4 separate regions of the Homo sapiens genome follow, and regions 2, 3 and 4 are each linked to region 1. The links come from fine-mapping of genetic effects on gene expression. A gene starts in region 1. Each other region holds a variant in brackets. All regions are shown on one strand. Distances are between the middles of the regions. Region 1 holds the start of IKZF1 (IKAROS family zinc finger 1). Region 2 overlaps IKZF1 (IKAROS family zinc finger 1). Region 3 overlaps IKZF1 (IKAROS family zinc finger 1). Region 4 has its middle 83 kb from the start of IKZF1.

Region 1 (5,178 bases):
CTTTAGACATAATATGAAAAAAAACAGTTTTACATGTTCCAATTTCTCCCTATATGTTTTCCCATCCATTGTGCATTTTACTGTTGTCCCTAAGGGTTTGAACATTTGATTTATATCACCTCTCTGGTCCCTCTGAGTCTATCCACAGACCCCAGGTTATAATAATATAAGCTTGACTTCCTTCAACTCCACCCGGTTGGGGGCAAGGGTAAGGCATGGTACCTGCAGCCTGACTGCTGTTTTGTTTTGTTTTGTGACAGGGTCTTGCTGTGTCGCCCAAGCTGGAGTGCAGTGGTGTCAATCATGGCTCACTGCAGCCTCAAACTTCTGGGCTCAAGGGATCCTCCTGCCTCAGCCTCCTAAGTAGGTTGTTGGGACTGCAGGTGCATACCATAACACCTAATTTTTAAATTTTTAATACAAATGGGGTTTGATTTTTAAAGTTTAAAATTTTTTTGTACAAACAGGGTCTTGCTTTGTTGCCCAGGCTGGTCTGGAACTCTTGGCTTGAAGTGATCTTCCCACCTTGGGCTCCAAACTCAGGTGTGAGTCACTGCACCCAGCCAAGGAGCCTGACTCTTCACAGTGCACTCCTCATCTCATTGGGACATTGGTTGGGCTAGCAGGGAATAACTGTTCTTACTTGGAAAGTACTCCTCTCTGTCAGGCATGTGGCAAGGTCTTCCATATGTGATCTCCTTAACCCACAAACAACCCCACCAGGAGGGTTATATTATCACCACCAATTTACAGATGGGGAAATTCAGGCTTTGAGAGATTAAGGACCTCAGTCAGATTCATAAGCCCAAACTATCTGGGCTCTTAGCCCCACATGCTCCTGCCTCAGTGGGCTACACCTTGGTGAGATGCCTATGTTTCGGTCCACTGGTCCACTCCTGAAGACCAAGGCACAGGTTTAGAGAGACGTACCAGCGGCTAAAGGTACTTCTGCATCCAAGAACTAGAGGTGTCCCGTGTCCCCTTTACAACATTGTTGGCCTCCCTCTGGGCCTTGTACCTTATGTTTATTGCCTCATTTAATCCAGGTAAGGAGTCTTTAGGATTGGTGGCATGTATTCTTTTTATAGACAAGGAAGATGATGCTCAGGAGTTTGGATAACCTGCCCAAGGTCACGCAGTGGAGGAGAGGACTAGAAGGTAAATCAATGGACCTTTCACTACCTTCCCCTTCTCTGGGCTGTAGCAGTGAGTTAACTGGCTCAGACTTGCCCAGCGGAATGCCCTTCAGGACACACTGAGTACTGTAGTAAGAGCTGCATATGCGCTCAGGGAGAATGTGGATAGACGCTGTTTGTGATTCACGGGTAAAGGGCCTTCTCCCAGAGGCAGCAGAGGCAGATCCTGTCTCTGGTGTGCCCTGGCCCCCGACTTGGAGGCCTCCTGGGCCAGGCCAAGACCTTCCCCGGCAGCGATGGTCTCCAGCCACACTCAACTGCCCTGAAGGGACATTTCCTGCTTATTCCCTTGCCCGGCTGTGTCCTCCACCCGGAAGGCCTGTGCCTTCTTCGCCTGCATGTCCTACCCTGAGGAGGCTCCCTTGGTCTTTCATCGCTCTCCCTATGGGTCTTCACGCCTTCCCGAACCACCGCGCCCAAGCAGGAGCACGTTCTCGGCCCTCTTCACAGGGCGCTCCTCCTCACAGGGGTGCCCGGGATTTTTATTCTGTGCCTTCCTGGTGGCTCCTACAAGTCTGGAAGGGCAGGAGGCGCATCTCACTCCTCTGGGTCCCCTCCCCTAGCGCCTGGCGGGAGCCCAGGCTGCATTTGTGGAATTCATGACTTTTTCTCTCCTGCTCAAGCTGAACACATTGCTGGCTCCTGCTCGGGTGGAGCCCGGCTAATTAGAGTGAGGGGCTCCCCGTAGGGCGAAGGGGTGCGCTGTCAGATGTGGCATTCCCGTTTTACGGAGACACACGGTGTCTTACACGCCAGGGAGAGGTCTGAGACGCAAAGAGCCGTCGAGCGGGCTGCGGGATTGCTTCGCTGTCACCTCCGCCTGCAGCCACCCTTCCGCACGCACTTGTGTGTGCACCCAGGCCAACATGGAAGGCGCCATCCTAACTTCTGCCGTGAGCAGGTGGGAGGGAAGAGAGACGAGAGGTATTCCATTGGTTGTCTGGGAAAATGAATTGCACCTTCCCCTCCCTTGCGGAGGATCAACTTTTCCCACCCCCTCGGGTGGGCACTCGCATCCTGGGGCCGGAGCCTGAACCCGGGAGCCAAGGGGCCCCAGTTCCAGGGACGTGAAGCTGAGCGTACAGCGGGCGCTCCCAGACACTGGGGAAAGTGCTTTACGATGTCCCGAGTCCCTCCAGTCTCGCCAGCGGGGCGAGCGTGAGGGTGCCCCGACCGACCAGCGGCCCCGGGTGCAGGGTGGCGGGCCCGGCGGCGCGCGTCCCCCTCCCCCTCCTGGCGGCCCGCACGTGTCGCCCGCGCCGCGCCCCCACGGGTTACGCGCGGGTCCCGCAGCGCCGCGGCCGAGCCGGGCTGCCCGGCCCGCGGACACAGCGCCGGCCGCCGCATCCCGTGCGGGGCCGCGGCGCGATGCTGCGCTGGAATGAGGAAGCGCGGCGGCGAGGGGAGGGCCCGGGCGCGGTGCGCGCGGGGGTGGCGGCGGCGCGCCGAGCGGGCCCGGCGCGGGCGAGCGGGCTGCAGCCGGCGGCGGCGCCAGCAGGTACGGCCCGCACCCGCCGCCGCCCCGGCGGCCTTTGGGGGCTGAGCCGGAGCCCGGCGCGATTGCAAAGTTTTCGTGCGCGGCCCCTCTGGCCCGGAGTTGCGGCTGAGACGCGCGCCGCGCGAGCCGGGGGACTCGGCGACGGGGCGGGGACGGGACGACGCACCCTCTCCGTGTCCCGCTCTGCGCCCTTCTGCGCGCCCCGCTCCCTGTACCGGAGCAGCGATCCGGGAGGCGGCCGAGAGGTGCGCGCGGGGCCGAGCCGGCTGCGGGGCAGGTCGAGCAGGGACCGCCAGCGTGCGTCACCCCAAAGTTTGCGGGGTGGCAGGGCGCGCGCTCTGGCCACCCGCCGCTCTGGGCGGCAGCTGGTGGCAACGCAAGGGCGCGGCGGGGGCGGCCGGCGCGGAGGGGGCCAGGTACGGGGCCCGCGGGCGGCGCTGTGCGCGCGGGGCAGCCGGTCGGCCGGGAGCGCGAAAGCCTGGTCTGAGCCGGCTGGGGGCGGGGAGTGTGGCGGAGAAATGGGGAACAATGCGAGTGAGCAACTTCAGGAAGTCATTGTGAAAGAAAGCTGGGAAGAGCTCCGCGGCCAAGTTAGCAGGACACTCTAACAAGTGACTGCGCGGCCCGCGCCCGGGGCGGTGACTGCGGCAAGCCCCCTGGGTCCCCGCGCGGCGCATCCCAGCCTGGGCGGGACGCTCGGCCGCGGCGAGGCGGGCAAGCCTGGCAGGGCAGAGGGAGCCCCGGCTCCGAGGTTGCTCTTCGCACCCGAGGATCAGTCTTGGCCCCAAAGCGCGACGCACAAATCCACGTGAGTGTTTTCAAATTGAATTTCAATAGGAAAACTTGGGGTAACTGGTGAATTTAAAAAAAAAAAAACACAGTAAAGAAAAGCGGTAAGGTTGGTAGACCCTGGTGTCGCTCAGGTCCGCCTCTCTTTTCTGAGGACAGTGAGAGAGTTCACTTCTGTCAAGCGTCTGTTGCTCTGCACTGTGCCAGCAGGTGCAGGACCAGGCCGACATGGGACACTTCTGAGCAGCCCCGCTGTCACCAGGAGAGGAGTTCTAGCTCCCAACCATATTTAAATTTATGTAGACCTACATATACCCACGGAAGTCAGCCTTTATAAAGTCGTGTGTAAAGAGTTTTCCTTATATTTGAGCCGGGAGCTTTCTTTTTATACTATAAATATGATGAGATCGAGTCTGAACTTAATTTCTGCAAGAGAGGAATTATCCCGGCTTTGAAAAGTTAGTCCTTTTGCTGACCGCAGGTTTGACGCTCAAGTCACCAAACCTTCTCAGGAAAACCCTTAGTAATATTAAGGCATCAGGTTACTTGCGGTTATATTTGAAATGTATTTTAAATATTTGTCAAGCATCGCTGCTGATGCCTAAGGAACCTCGTGAGGGCTTGTTTTTCCTTCTAATTTGGAGGCATCTAATGACCGAAAACCGTAGCGATTCCATAGGGTCTGACCAGGCACAGCTTTCAAATGCAGCTTCCCTCTCTCTAGGGACTGCAGCCCACCCAGACTGAATTTCAATGCGGTGCGCTTTGCTTAGGTTACCCACTCACAATTTCCCACTGCGCCGCAGGCAGTATATTTCAGCTTTGAGATACCTTGTTTTAAAATTCCAGACAAAATGGTGTTGAGGAAATGTCTCCTTACTAGTCCCATCAACTTCTGTTAAAAGAGGAAAATTTATGGAATTTGAAAATACTGCGTATGATATTTAAACTTTCATAGACATTCAAATGCTTTTAAGGCCAGGTTCAATTTGGTTATGAGTCGAGGGGTGGGGGGGACCCACATAGAAATGTCCTGGGTCCTCTTGAGTTTATTTCTTTGTTTGAAGATGTTTGTTCAATGAGTTTTATTGTACTCATCTTTTATATGGAATTTTAAAAAGTAACAATTTCAGTATTATTTATATTAGAATGTGTCAGAATTATTTCCGTGACAAATCAGATCATTTGGGCTATGGCTTAAAATGTACACGAGGCAAATATTCATGACAAGAAGATTCACCTTCTTACGCTGGCATCTTGTAAAATGCAGAACAAGTTAAAGAAATAATGTGTACACATACAAATAATGATGTCACATTAAAAATACTACACTATTCTTGCTTGATGGAATGTATCTGATTTCCAATTTCACCATGAACATATTTCATACATTTTTTACATGAAAAAAAACGTGACTCTTAAGTCTCACAGTCAATCAGAGCTGGTGACCAGAACATTTTATTGAACTAAATGGTCATGTTTTCTTCCCCTTTTGTTTCACGGTGAGAGTTGAAGGAAGGAGTTTAGAAACTCTCCAGTACTTGTTTAATTCATCAGTGTTCTAATTAGAGTGGTACCTCTTGGAAAACTACACACCCCCCTAATGCAGAAACATCATAGCAATAATCACCCACCCTCAGGGTCTCCAGGAGACCACAAGGGCTGCAGATAAAAGTCTGGATGTGTTAGGTTTGA
Region 2 (5,000 bases), 27 kb after region 1:
AAAAGAATATGAAGGACATACAGGTAAAATGAGGTAGACTGGATCAATGTGGGTCAGCTACATAAGCCCCCATAGCCAAGGAGGGAACATGTATGTAAAATTCTCAGGCTTATGAGAATCACAACTGTATGTCTATAGGACATCCTAATGCAATAATGGGAAAATGTGATAACTGAATTTTATCTACATGTATAGAAAACATATTTTGGGCCGGGCATGGTGGCTCAAGCTTGTAATCCCAGCACTTTGGGAGGCCGAGGCTGGCGGATCACAAGGTCAGGAAATCGAGACCATCCTGGCTAACACGGTGAAACCCTGTCTCTACTAAAAATACAAAAAATTAGCCGGGCGTAGTGGTGGGCGCCTGTAGTCCCAGCTACTCGGGAGGCTGAGGCAGGAGAATGGCGTGAACCCGGCAGGCGGAGCTTGCAGTGAGCCGAGATTGCGCCACTGCACTCCAGCCTGGATGACAGAGCCAGACTCCATCTCAAAAAAAAAAAAAAAAAAGAAAAAGTAAAGAAAACATATTTTGTATGTTTTTTATGTGTCTTAGAAACCAAGTGGACTAGGTATAATGGTTCTTTTTTTTTTTAACTCAGCAGCACAGTTAATGGCACAAACAGATAAAGATGGTGGCTAAAGCCATTTGGTGTAGATGAATCCAGAAAACAAGTACATTTATGAATTATTTTACCCTATTGGAAAATGGCTACTATATGTGGAAAGTAGAGGGGAAGAGAAATGAACTTGTGAATTATCTACTCTATTCTACCAAAGAAAGATACATATATCATTTCAGGGTTTTCCAAAGTTGGGATGCAAAGGATCATGTTTCATTTTAATTTATGTATTTATTTTTGAGATTGTCTTCTATGTATTGCAAGTGATACTGGTTTTACCATGCACTGTACCACTACGAGGGTTCCTTTCAAAACACATTCATATAAATTAAAAAATCAGTTTAAATAAAAACATCAAGTCAATAGTAGTACATAGATATGATAAAAGTTTGCAAAAGTGGCACAGGAATAGTCATTGGGTGGTGATGTTCCCTGATTTTTTTAGTCCCTGAAGCACCCAGCGCCAAGGGTACTGTTCTTCCTGCTTAACACAGGAGCAAACAGATGCTCACACCCTGCCCAAGAACACAGAGGCTCAGGGACTGAACCAGAAGAAATGATCCATTAACCATGTAAATGAACAGAGAGCCTGGATGTCAGAGTGAGGAGGCCAGCTCGGGTCGCTGTGGAGAAAGAGATGGGCTCTCCCTGGAATCCCTGCAGCTGCCCTTAGAGGCTGTGAGCCATCGTGGCTAGGGCATCTTTAGAGAACTGAAAGTCAGGCCGATTCCTGGAGAGTGAAGAATAGCACACGTGCCTTCAAAACAGTGTCAGTATCCTGTCCCTTACGGACGTCATATTGTTGGTGGGTTTTCCTGGGTGGGAGATCACCCAGTATCTGGTTGGCATTACTGATGGGTTCCCAGAGCTGTCTTTTGGTTCAAAGTCCTGCCCTCGGTCCCAGCTGCCCCCAGCACAGGTGTCACCTTGGAGTCAGGGGCGGGTTTGTCATAGCCCATGGGTCCTGGCCCTGCCCTTTATCATGTTTGACATGATTTTCAGTCTACTTTTCCTTCAGGATGTAATTTAGAAAATATGATTTCAGAATTGTGAAATTTAAAAACCCTAGAAAACCTCTTTGCTTTGCTTGTAAATAGCAGTTGATGCAGCCCTGTGGACAGGCGGGAACAGCCATGTGACGTGGGCACTGAGATGATTTGGGAGATTGAATGCTCCTCAGTGGGGCTAGAGGCCACAGGAGTGATAGGTTACTGTAAAGAAAGCAAAAAAGATGCAAAAGCCTACATGACAAACCAGGCACGACACAAAGGAGAGGCTTGAGAAGAGGAAGTGAAGGAGGGAGAGGATTCCACAAGACCGAAGTGCCCAAGGAGACATGGAGGGAAGAGAGGGCTCTTCACAGAGCTGAGTTTAGAGACCACCCTCCATGGTTCTGGAAGGAAACCAGCCAGCTTTCATATGTGGTGACAGGCTGTTCATTAATTTGTAGTGTA[C/T]AGCATTAAATAAATGAAGTATGTAGAGAACATTAGGAAACAATATAAAAAGGTAGGGGAATTCGTGGATAAAGGGAATAACCTGGGTACCATATTTCATCACATTATTCCATGGGAATAAGTCATCAGTGCAAAGGACTGTAAGGAGTGCACAGCAGGAAATGAAAAGACAGAAGCAGTGGGGCCGAGAGGAGGAAATGGAGTTGCTGAAATGCAGGGTGAGCAGCAGGGGCGGAGAGTGCCCTGTGGGTAAGGCACACCTCAGAAGGGACAGGTCCAGGCCCTCTCCTCCCTGGCCTGGAGCTTCTGGCAAGGCTTTTCTTCTCTGAGCCTCACTTTCCTCTTTTGAAGGTGGCAATAGTAACTGAACCTGCATCACAGAATGGCCTTGAGGGTTAGATGGAACATATATAGACATAATTTGTTGAAGACAGAGTAGCAAAGACACAAAGTAAAAAGGACAGAAAAAAGAAATGCAACTTGTGCAAAATAGAACTTTCAAAGATTTACAAGAAGGGTAAATGAAGCTATCGTAGCTTCACTTGGGAAAAGGGAGAGAACAGATGACCAGCACCAAGGATAGAAGAGGGATTTCTTACTTTAAAAAAAATGGTCCAAAGAATAAACAAACTGAAAACAGCCAAAAGAGAAAGGAAGAATTTGTTAGAATAGGGCAAGACTAAAGGACAGAGTAAGGGTGCTGGCCGCCACCTGACTCAAGTTCAAGTCGAGCTGCCACTGTTGAAATTTCAAGGAGAAATGGTGAGAAGCTAAAAGATGCAAAAAAAAAAAAAAAGTGGGAAATTATTTGCTAATAATAGATTGCAAGAGTGTCTGCTTTAGAAAGTGACAAGGAACACTTTTGGAAAGCTGTGAGCTGTTATGACCACTGGCATCCTTCAGTTTTAGACAAATCTAATCTCAACAAGGATAACAGACCATATTAATAAACAAATTGATGGGAATGGTGGAAATCAGTTCCCTATGAGGAGGGTGCAAAGTTATACTGATTGGTGAGTCACTCCCAGAATAAACAAATAATGGTTTCACACCTCATTGCTTCATTCAGTGTGGAAGGAACATTCTAGGTTTGTGTGTAAGTTTGGGGAGAAGGAGACAGAGCCAGAGGGCAGAGCAGCCCTGCAGCCCTCAGTTGGCCTCCATTTTCTTCCCGGTCTGAAGAAAATGAAACAAAGGATTTAAAGTGTTGCTTGAAGAATTTAAGTTAGACTTAAAGGAGAGATGTGGTCTTTACTCTCCTTTTGGCAAGGAGAGTTTAGTCATCAGAATGGTCTATTTAGTGAGACTGTAGCTTGTTCTTCTGAAGTGGTCTTTTTAAAAACTAGAGAACTCTCACCTCTCTGAAGTGGTTGTGTATGAAACTGTTTAAAGCCGAGGATGCACTCAGTGACCTCTTCAGGCAACCCCAGATTTACTCAGTCAGCCATGGCACACATGCTAGAGAAGTAAAAAAATGAATTGAGACTTGTTCTGAAAACTCTTGAGCAGGGGCTCTTAAAAGTTTTTTGTTTAGGAATTATGTCAGGGTTGGGGTCTGGAGAGCAGATAAGTGTTTTGTGTGAGAAAAGTAAAAACTTAGTTATTTTCTTCCCGTATTCAGTAATCCTTGCATTTTTTTCCTCCTCCTTTATACATACATTTTTGCCAGTTACTGACTTCTCTCTTGTACACATTTCCGTGTCCTAAATTAACCAAGAGTCCTCAGCCACTAGGATTCTATTGACAAGCCCACAGGTCTGGAGGTGTGAGTAAGGGCATTCCTCCCCCATGAAATCAGGCAGCAGGGGAGGCGTTTGGGTGGGTGGAACAGAGGAGCAAAAGACCAGAGGACAGAGAAGAAAGATTGCAGGCTAGAAAACGGGATGGCCACCCCTGAGAAAGAGGACAAGCAAATTTAGGGCTTAGAGTAGAATTGAAGAAAAAACCCAGGGCAGAGGCACAGGAATGCTGTAGGACTGAACTGGGACCATGATTGATGTAAGTGGAGATGGGTTGGTTGAATCCGTGGAAGGCCAAAGGATTGAGGCCCATATGGGCCTGGGACAGGGCTTACTAAATGACTTGCTACCTGGCTTGATAATCGGGACAACCTCAGGCAGTAGTTATTCAGGCGGGAGGACACATGAGTTTGAATATAGGGAGATAAGGTATATTTCTATATGCCCTGGTACATTCCAGAATGTGCTTCTCTGGCTCTGTGCACTGGAGCAGCCAACTCCTGAAGTTGGGAGGGGATCGCCATGGTTTCATGAGTGGTTTATTTCAGCTTGCATCTCACAGTGTGGTGTTCAGAGGCATAGGCTCTAGGCTCCCTGGCAGCACTGAGAGATAGAAACTGAATCAGCACAACTTAGGTCCTTCATGTTGAATAGTTTGAACAGAATTTGATTTACCCTAGCCTAATTGAAAAAAAAAAAAGTAGAAAAGAAATCTAGGTATTTTCCCTCTGGACTCCAGAACAAATGATTGAGTGTGTAAAAGCATAAATCTTTTTTATTCATTCAATTGAAGTAAAAATTTCTTTACTCAGCCATGAGTTCTAAGACTGCAGTGGGAATTGTAAGAGGATTACCATATTTTAAATTGGCTATTCTGGTGCCAAATCTCCCCTTCATTTTACAGTTTCAGGCAGAAGACCAGCACGGTAGTCGGGGGAGGGGGGTGGGTAGACAAATGGTGGTAACAGTCCTCTACACTCTGGGAGGGAAGGAGCGGTGCTGGGGACAGCTTTCACCATGGAAAGAAAGCAGCCGCTCTGGAGATTGGGCAGCAGGCTTTTGAGCACGGATGCGGAGCCTGCTTATCTAATCAGCAGCTAGAGGAAGTTGTTTTTATCTGCGAAATGCATCTCTTCTGAACCGATAAACCCCATTTTAGCTGGGGAGAAATATTATCTAGCAGCATC
Region 3 (5,166 bases), 95 kb after region 1:
TGAATACTTTTAAAATTGATTCCATGTTATGAAGCAATTATGAGGCATTTCCTCTCTTGTTGGAATTAACGATTTTTTCCCCTAGGAGGGACTCTATGGTCTGTGTTTTACTTCCTTTCTTCCCCTGTATTTCTAGAAAATATTTTCCTAGTAACCCTGACATTTCTTTTCATCTTGCTTATTCTAGTTGGTCTGATATAGCTTGATTGACATTTCAGCCTTCTTCCCACTATATTTTTTTTTCCTGTGAGAGCTATTGGGTTTTCTAAATCCTGAAAGAATGCCAAAGATGGGGTTGGAGGAGTTTGGTGAGGCAAAGTGCAGCCTTTGTTAAAATACTTTTCCTTTGCTCTCTCTCCCTCATCTGAAATTTAGTTAAATACCCTAAGCCATCAGCACTGTACCTAGTTGGGGAATGCTTTCATCCCCACAGGAGATTCTCTGGGGCTTTGGGCCATCTTCCCCTTCAGTGTAGACCACAGAGGACTTTGCTTCTGTCCCAGGGAGCCCGCAGGGGCTCACTTCTCCATGTTCATCTGATTCTTGTCAGCCAAGGTTTCAAATGCTTTTCTGATCAGAACAGGGAAAAGATACCTATCTGAATCATGTCTTTATAGATATGAGGCTATGAGGGAAAATTCTGAGGTTATTCTTGACTCACACCTAAAGATTTGGAAATGAGATTAGCAGCAAAGCTTTGCCCTACATCTCATGTCAGAATTTTCTGTTTCTTTCTAGTCTTTGAGTGTATGTGTGTTCTCACACACGCCATAATGAAATGCATATTATATATAATTATGTGTATATATAATATTCTATGACTATACATGACATGTTCCTTTAGCTGATTGCTGTTAAGAGAAATTTATAGGTTTTTATTTTTCTTGTTTTGTTGGGTATTAAGGAAGAGAAATTCTATGGTAATTTTCATGTGGCACAGTAATCTGGCATATATGTTGATTTTTTTCCTACACCCATTTGTTGTGATACCAAGTTTGAAAACAACAGATTTCAGTGGTTGCTTGGGAAACCACAGAACCATGACTTGGGGAGAGACAGGATGATTAGGTGGGAAAGCACCCTTTTGGTGGGGCTGTAAAGACTTTTATATTTAGCAAAATTGGCTACAAAGTCCATTCCCCTCCTTTTCTTGCCTTGATTTGGTAGAGGGATAGACTTGGATACAAACTAGAATGGATTCATTCTTCTCTGGAGTTAGTGTAACAAGACATTTAGCTGCTCAACACAAAAACAGAAACAAAAAAATTGTGTGGTTTCAGCAGTGCTATACAATTACTTTTTCTGACCTTTAATGGAGAGAAACACCACTTCTTTGGTCCCTACCATCAGCTTCATAGGGTTTTCATCCTGTTCTGTTTCTGGGAGGGCGTAACTGGCCATGCACAAGTTTTTTTTCTCTAATCAGAGTATGTGCCACTTCTGACCACCAGTAGATGAAAACGAATGGAAACCAGGCTATTATATGATACATATCCATTACAAAATAAGACATGAAACTCAAAGGTACTTTATGGTATAATGGGGCATATATTCCTGGACAATTCTTAATGGTCACAGATTTTATAAAAGGACTATTAGTAAATGTATGAATTACAGAGTAATTTATCCTTCTGTTAGTAAGAACCAGCTGATGACCTCAGTGTCAGGTGCATCGTGGAAGGTGTTGGGACCTTCCCTTGCCACCACCCTCACCAGCCATCATCAGCCATAACCTGCACATTGGGGAAGTTTTGACTTATCCCTCACTTTTGCCCCTCTTCAAGCTGTTCTTTCCACAGTGAATGAGAAGGCCACTTCTTCCTTCAAACCTTTCAGTGGTTTCCATTTTCCTTTAGACAAAGTCTCTGCCTAGCTGGCCTCTGCCTGCCCCTCCTGCCTACCTCTCGAGCACTGCCCCCACCTAGGGCTCTGGTTCCCCAACCTTCACTCGGTCCTGCCACACCTCCCAGCCCCTTCTCCCTTCAGAACTTTCCTTCTTGTTGTCCCCAACACTGGGACACAAAACCCTCCTTATCAACCCTCCTTATCTGGCTGACTCTTACAAGATCAGAAACCTGTGTAATGCTCTCATGGCACGCTCCCCTTGTCTTCGTGGATTTCTCAGATGGGAAGGAATTATCCATGCAATCAC[A/G]CATAAACTTCTACCTACCCTCCCCTAGTAGCTGTCTGCTGCTAAGGATGGGGACCATTCTCACTTACTCACTGTTCTGTCCCTCTGCCCAGTCCAGATGTGTTGAAGGATGGAAATATACAGAGTAGTGGTAAAATATAAACCGTTCAGACATTCCAAGGATGGGCTCATGTGCTTTGACTCATTAATGTACCACTGCTGAAAACAGAACACAGCCGCAGTCTTGCCAGTAAGAGTGCAGTTACTGTAATTAATGAATTTGCTAATTAAGCCATGATTTCATACTGAACTTATGACCAACATATTGAGAAGGTGTGTCTTCAAGAAAATTTATTTTTTGTATTAAGATATTTACTCCAAAGCTAATTGAAGAAGCCAAATCTAGGCTCTGGTTTCACCATTGCCAGGGAAATGAGCTCATGGACTCCTATGAACTGATGATGTTAGATCAGAAGTTTCTCAAGGCCAGGGCCCAATCACTGCTGAGGCGTCAACAGTAGTTCCTTGTACATCAATAATTCTCATTACTTTTAAAAAATAACAGATGAATAGCAACTATTTTCCCTGTAGCTCCCTTGCTGTGCCTCCTACCCTCCACCACATGTTTCTGGGGAGCCCTGCTTCGGGCCTGCCAACTACAGAGAATTACTTTTGAGTATCCCTTCCACTCTCATCTCAAGACAGAGTTCATCTACCTTTGGGTTATTTGTCAAAAATGTGTCATTTTATTACAAAAAATATACAATCATCATGTATTTTGATTAAATTTTACACTAGATTATTAAAATTATTAAATACAATTATTAAAATTAATAATTTAACATATCACATATTTTAAATATATTGTATATAATGAATAATAATATAATTATTGTCTATTTTAATTCAATAAATGTATAGTAAGTTAGCCAGTTGTAAATTACTGAGAACACTCTACTGAAAAAGCATCATTTCAAATACACTATTTAAAATATTAAATGAAATACAATAACATAATTAAACTAATCTTTGGTTCCCCTATTTATGTATTCATTTATCCAACAAAATCTCCTTAAGTGCTTATAATGGGTAGGTCCTGGCTCGGTGTCCCCTAGACAGACGCATGGGCCTTCCCCCAGCCCGTCAGTATGGTGCAGGTGTGATGTGTCCGCAGGTGTGTGTGTATGTGTGCAGGTGTGGGGTCCGCAGGCGTGCTGGGCCCCCAGGCCGTGTTCCCCTTCCCCTCCCCGGTTGTAGATTTCAGCTGTTGCTGCCAGACCTGACCGGTTCCGGAGGTGGCCGCGCCCCACTCACTGTCGCCTGCTTTCCACAGGGGACAAGGGCCTGTCCGACACGCCCTACGACAGCAGCGCCAGCTACGAGAAGGAGAACGAAATGATGAAGTCCCACGTGATGGACCAAGCCATCAACAACGCCATCAACTACCTGGGGGCCGAGTCCCTGCGCCCGCTGGTGCAGACGCCCCCGGGCGGTTCCGAGGTGGTCCCGGTCATCAGCCCGATGTACCAGCTGCACAAGCCGCTCGCGGAGGGCACCCCGCGCTCCAACCACTCGGCCCAGGACAGCGCCGTGGAGAACCTGCTGCTGCTCTCCAAGGCCAAGTTGGTGCCCTCGGAGCGCGAGGCGTCCCCGAGCAACAGCTGCCAAGACTCCACGGACACCGAGAGCAACAACGAGGAGCAGCGCAGCGGTCTCATCTACCTGACCAACCACATCGCCCCGCACGCGCGCAACGGGCTGTCGCTCAAGGAGGAGCACCGCGCCTACGACCTGCTGCGCGCCGCCTCCGAGAACTCGCAGGACGCGCTCCGCGTGGTCAGCACCAGCGGGGAGCAGATGAAGGTGTACAAGTGCGAACACTGCCGGGTGCTCTTCCTGGATCACGTCATGTACACCATCCACATGGGCTGCCACGGCTTCCGTGATCCTTTTGAGTGCAACATGTGCGGCTACCACAGCCAGGACCGGTACGAGTTCTCGTCGCACATAACGCGAGGGGAGCACCGCTTCCACATGAGCTAAAGCCCTCCCGCGCCCCCACCCCAGACCCCGAGCCACCCCAGGAAAAGCACAAGGACTGCCGCCTTCTCGCTCCCGCCAGCAGCATAGACTGGACTGGACCAGACAATGTTGTGTTTGGATTTGTAACTGTTTTTTGTTTTTTGTTTGAGTTGGTTGATTGGGGTTTGATTTGCTTTTGAAAAGATTTTTATTTTTAGAGGCAGGGCTGCATTGGGAGCATCCAGAACTGCTACCTTCCTAGATGTTTCCCCAGACCGCTGGCTGAGATTCCCTCACCTGTCGCTTCCTAGAATCCCCTTCTCCAAACGATTAGTCTAAATTTTCAGAGAGAAATAGATAAAACACGCCACAGCCTGGGAAGGAGCGTGCTCTACCCTGTGCTAAGCACGGGGTTCGCGCACCAGGTGTCTTTTTCCAGTCCCCAGAAGCAGAGAGCACAGCCCCTGCTGTGTGGGTCTGCAGGTGAGCAGACAGGACAGGTGTGCCGCCACCCAAGTGCCAAGACACAGCAGGGCCAACAACCTGTGCCCAGGCCAGCTTCGAGCTACATGCATCTAGGGCGGAGAGGCTGCACTTGTGAGAGAAAATACTATTTCAAGTCATATTCTGCGTAGGAAAATGAATTGGTTGGGGAAAGTCGTGTCTGTCAGACTGCCCTGGGTGGAGGGAGACGCCGGGCTAGAGCCTTTGGGATCGTCCTGGATTCACTGGCTTTGCGGAGGCTGCTCAGATGGCCTGAGCCTCCCGAGGCTTGCTGCCCCGTAGGAGGAGACTGTCTTCCCGTGGGCATATCTGGGGAGCCCTGTTCCCCGCTTTTTCACTCCCATACCTTTAATGGCCCCCAAAATCTGTCACTACAATTTAAACACCAGTCCCGAAATTTGGATCTTCTTTCTTTTTGAATCTCTCAAACGGCAACATTCCTCAGAAACCAAAGCTTTATTTCAAATCTCTTCCTTCCCTGGCTGGTTCCATCTAGTACCAGAGGCCTC
Region 4 (5,201 bases), 83 kb before region 1:
CATGCCTTAGAAAAGGCCCTGGGAACAGCTGTATCTTGTCCTTCCAGGATCCTCCAGATAGAGAAGCCAGACGTTGGGTGGAGGAGGGACTCAGATGGGGCTTGAAGGGAAGGGCCTTGTGAGGGCTGTAGGTGGCACACACTGGCAGAGGCACTGAACATACGTGACCTCCATCCTCACAAGAACCTGGCAACCAAGTGGCAACCCCATGCTCAGAAACAAAACTGAGGCTCAGAGAAGTTGAAGAATTTGTCTAAGGTCATGAAGCTGATAATGGAGGAAAATGGGATTCCAACTCAGGAGAGTTAAGCTCCAAGCCCTTGATTTTACCACTTGGGCCTTGTTACTCAAGGTCCAGGAACAAGTGGCACCTGTGCCACCTGGAAACTTGGTAGAAATCAGATCCTCGTGCCCCACTTCAGATGTACAGAATCAGAATGTGCATTTTCTCAAGAGTCCCAGGTTTAAGCATGTGTTCTGCCTTCCTGGGGAGGGTCCTTGAGCACTTTGGGGTCACAATTCAGCACCAAGTGGTGGTACATTCCCAGGTCAGGAAGAGGCTGTGTGTCTCTGGAGTAGAAACCCTAAGAGGCATAATAAGCAATAGTGCTTAGGAATAAGTGCTCAATTGTGATAATCAAACAGATAAGGAAAATAATGAGAAGGTGAGATTTCATGAAAGACAAAAAGACTAGTAGATGTTACACCTCTGGTTGTTTCTGAGTTTGTGAGCTCTTCGTCCATCTCTCCATCCACTCATTCATCAGAATGACTAAGGATCTAAAATGTTGGAAGGACACAGGCTGTCTCATTTTGCCTGTTTGGCCCACAGAGAGAAGTTAAAAGAGTTTGTTCTTACACCTAAGATGAGCTTCTAAGTTCAGTTACCAGAATTTTCAAGCAATGCAGAAAGTGGCATTCTGTGGTGGTCTTTAGAAAAGCAGTATCTCCTAAATCAAAGCAAGAGAGAATAAGACCACACATAAATCAAATGAAGAAAGAGTAGTGCCATCAATGATAGAGACAGACCTGAGGAGAGGGTGGTGGTAGAAAGAATCTGAATTAGAAAAGGGAGGAGAAGAAAGCCATGAGTGATGCTTGTCAAATTTGGGACTGGGCCCACACTGGCATTAAAGAGACCTGAATAGTACCTAGAAGTGTTCTGGGAGTTTTCACCATCCTGTGCTCCAATCATATCCTAATAGTTACTGATTTGGAAGTGGTACCCTGGGTCACATATGTCAATATCAATAGAAAGAAATGATTCTTATGGTAAATTCACAAAAGGATTATTTTTGGATTATAATTTGGCATCATGTGAGTTTGACTACCATGGGCTTGTTTCTGAGAATGTGATCACTTCAAGATGCCCTTACAAAATTGATCCTCTCTATTCTGAAAAATTGTAAGCCCTTGACCTGGCTTACTCACCTAACTACCGAGTGGCCCAATCAGCAGGTCTCCTTTCCTGGCATGGCACTGTAACCTCCTCACCCTGGATCTCTCCCACTACTTTCTTACAATTCAGTTAAGGGATCACCCATACCCACATGCTCACTGCCTCTCCCACAGTTAGTTCCTGAATCTGTTTTGACTGAGGTTGCAATTACTTAAACTTTTGCAACCATCCCCTTCTCTCTATTCAACAGGCAGAACCTAATATCATCACTCTTATTACGTGGCTAACCAGGGAGCTCCTGTTCTGTGCCTCAATTACCAACTCTCCCTGTCCTGTGCATGCCCTAGTCTATGGAAAGGACTTTAAGTGCCCTTTTCTGTCTCCATTTAGTCCTCCAAATGCCTTGCTTTCAATATTGAAGTCCAGCTTCTGAACACCCTACCAGGTGGCAAGGCTCCAAGAACCATTTTTTTAAGTGGTTCCATACTGCTTGGCATCATTTAGCCAATATGCTCAGGGTCTACACTCCATCTACCACTGGGATCCCATCACCACCTGCCTACCCCACTTCCACTCCCACAGCTGACAACTTTCCCTGAACAAGATTGAGATTGTTGTGCTCTTGGACACTTGTGCCCAGCCTCCCCTGCCCTGACAGCATCCTTGCCCTGTGGGTTCCTCCAGCCTCCATTTTCTTACCCCAGTGGGGAGACTAAGCACCACCTATGACTATCTCTTTACTTCATTACGTGGCTGGAGATGGAGTTTCTTCTGTAAATGGCATCTGACCTATCTCAAGATAGAGGAGCCCAAAGGAGTGATCCGAGTGAGTGAAGTGAATTAGTGACAACTTCATGCAAAAAAGTTTGAGACACGTCATGGAGATGAATTAGGGAAGAGGTAGAGGAGGACCTCCAAATAGAGGAAATGAGGTAACACTTGCAGG[G/A]ACTGGGCAACCACCAGCTCAACAAGGGAGGGGACAGAGGTCAGCCTGTGGCAAGGAGCTCCCAGCCCCTCCCTCTCTGGGAAGAAGCAGTGGAAGCACCTTTCCTCCAGTTCTGCTCTGGACTCCCAGCAACAAACCGTCATGATCTGGGAACTTTGCACAGCCAAGGATGAAATGTCAGCCCTCAAACCTATGTCAGAGCTGCTGTGAAAATTGGAAATAAGAAACTTATGATAGGAAATTCATTTGCATGTACTATTTTACTTTTAACCCAGAATGATAGCTTTAGGCTTAAGCCATCCTATATCATCTGTATGAATTATTTCTTAATTTTCACTGAATGTTCAAAAGTAGAGTCATGTTTAATCATATAAGCACAGAGATGCATATACACACATATTCATACCTGCATGGGGCAGGGGAGTGTGTGTGTGTGTGTGTGTGCATAAACACAAGTTGCTGGGAGGAGATGAAATGAATAATGCCATACACTCACAACTTAAAAAAAATTGGGAGTAGTAGTATTTTGTTTCTCAGTTATTAATTCCAGTTAATGTAGTGATTAGAAAAGGAATCCACAAACATTTACTGGAATCTAAGTTCAGCCAAGCATAATGAGACTGGCTCATGTTATTTTTAATAGGCTTTTCATAGCTCATCCCTTAAATATAGAGAAACAAAGAGGTAAGAGAAATCAAGTCTATTCAAAGGCACATTCCATCCATGATACCAAGATTACAGCAGTTCTCTCATGGCTATAAAGCTTTGTTCCTGTCTCTTTAGCCAATTCAATAAGTAAGCTCACAAATGGGATAAAATAGATTAAGGAAGCCCTAAATGTAAGTGTCAAAGATAAACAGAAAACATAGTATACTCTTTCTTGCTCTTTTTGCACTGTTGTGTGACTTGAAACATTTTCCCTAGTTAGTTAGGAGACTTGGAATACTTCCAATCTGCCCCTACTCCTTGCCGCTTATAAATTCTTAACTTCCTATTGATACCAAAGATATCACAAGAAAACAAATCAATATATCATATTAATATAGATATAAAAACCTTCAACAAAATACTAGCAAGCCAAATCCAGTAACATATAACACAAACTGTATACCATGTGTATGCATACCAAGTGGAACTTATTCCAGGAATTCAAGGTTGGTTTAATATCTGAAAATTAATTAATGTAAAATAACATATCAACAGAATAAATGATAAAACCATATGATCCTCTAAATTAATGCAGAAAAGACATTTGACAAAAATCTAACCCCCTTCATGATAAAAACACTCAAAAAGCTATGAAAAAAATGGAAATTTCCTGAGCCTAATAAAAGACATCTATGAAACATCCACAGCTAATTTAATAGAAAATGACTTATTGTTTTCCCCTAAGATCAGGAATAAGACAAAGATATTCATTCTCACTGCTTCTATTCCACATTGTACTGGAAGTTCCAGCCAGAGAAATTAGTCAGGCAAAGGAAATAAAAGGCTTTTCGACTGGAAAAGAAGAAGTAGAACTATATTTATTTCCAGATGACATGATCTTATATATAGAATATGCTACAGAGCACACTAAAAAAATAGAATTAATAAATGTGTTCAGCAAGGTTGTAGGATATGACACCAATATGCAAAAATCAGTTGCAAATCTATACATGAGCAATAAACAATTTGAACGTTGTTTTAAAAATTTCATTTACAATACCATTCAAAAGAATAAAATACATAGAAATAAAGTTAACAAAGAAGAACCAATATTTCCATGCTGAAAAATCACAAAACCTTAATTTAAAAAAAGAGACATCAATAAATAGGAAGACATACTATGTTCATGGATTGAGAGATTTAATACCATTAAAATGAAAATACTCCCCAAGATGATCTATAGACTCAATCCCTATCAAAATTTCATCAATCTTTTTTGTAGAAAATGAACAGTCAATCCTGAAACCCACATGAAATTACAAGGGACCTTGAATAGCCAACCAACCTGAAGAGAAAGAACAGAGTTGAAATGCTCACACTTTTCATTTTCTTTTTTTGTTGTTGTTCTTTTTTTTCTTTTTTTTTTTTTAGACAGAGTTTCACTCTTGTTGCCCAGGCTGGAGTGCAATGGTGCAATCTCAGCTCACTGCAACCTCTGCCTCCCAGGTTCAAGCTATTCTCCTGCCTCAGCTTCCCAAGTAGCTGGGATTACAGGTGCCTGCCACCACACCCAGCTAATTTTTTGTATTTTTTAGTAGAGATGGGGTTTCACTATGATGGCCAGGCTGGTCTCGAACTCTTGACCTCAGGTAATCCACCCACCTCAGCCTCCCCAAGTGCTGGGATTACAGGCCTGAGCCACCGTGCCCAGCCCAAATTTTCATTTTCAAAGCTGTGATACCGGCATGCGATACTGGCATAAGGATAGTCAAATAAATCAATGAACTAGAACTGAGATCCCAGAAATAAAACCATTCATAGTCAATTGGTTGTACAATGCAGTGCCAACATTATTCATTTGGTAAAGAAGAGTCTCTTCAATAAATGGTGCTGGGACAACTGGATATTCATACATAAAAGAATAAAATTGGACACTTACCTCATAAAATATACAAATATTAACTCAAAATGGATCAACAACCTAAATGTAAGAATTAAAACAATAAAACTCTTAGAAGAAAACATGTGAGTGGCTCTTCAGGGCCTTGGATTTGGCAAAGGTTTCTTAGACATGACACCAAAAGCACAGGTGACATAAATAAATCGATACATTGGAGTTAGTCAAAATAAAAAACTTTGTCCATCAAAAGACATAATCAAGAGAGTGAGAAAACAACTCAGAGAATGGAAGAAGATATTTCCAAATCA

Evidence for each region. PIP is the estimated chance that this variant, and not a neighbour inherited with it, causes the effect. A credible set is the group of variants that fine-mapping cannot tell apart.
Region 2: its variant is the best candidate, but not a certain one, in a credible set for the expression of IKZF1 in whole blood (Lepik 2017, PIP 0.61).
Region 3: its variant is the best candidate, but not a certain one, in a credible set for the expression of IKZF1 in whole blood (INTERVAL, PIP 0.82).
Region 4: its variant is the best candidate, but not a certain one, in a credible set for the expression of IKZF1 in whole blood (TOPMed, PIP 0.51).

What each region holds. Positions count from the first base shown.
Region 1 is chr7:50,301,421-50,306,598 of GRCh38, forward strand. IKZF1 (IKAROS family zinc finger 1) reads left to right here and starts at 3,296. Exons shown (of 8, transcript NM_006060.6): 1 at 3,296-3,502. RefSeq lists an enhancer at 1,253-1,754 and a silencer at 2,609-3,408.
Region 2 is chr7:50,328,584-50,333,583 of GRCh38, forward strand. The region is part of intron 3 of IKZF1 (IKAROS family zinc finger 1); the gene reads left to right. Among named protein-coding and RNA genes, the nearest start is that of IKZF1, 26 kb to the left of the region's middle. The variant C/T (reference allele first, on the strand shown) is at 2,075.
Region 3 is chr7:50,396,454-50,401,619 of GRCh38, forward strand. It overlaps IKZF1 (IKAROS family zinc finger 1), which reads left to right. Exons shown (of 8, transcript NM_006060.6): 8 at 3,465-5,166. The coding sequence ends at 4,174. Among named protein-coding and RNA genes, the nearest start is that of FIGNL1, 51 kb to the right of the region's middle. The variant A/G (reference allele first, on the strand shown) is at 2,153.
Region 4 is chr7:50,218,873-50,224,073 of GRCh38, forward strand. No RefSeq gene overlaps it. Among named protein-coding and RNA genes, the nearest start is that of IKZF1, 83 kb to the right of the region's middle. The variant G/A (reference allele first, on the strand shown) is at 2,346.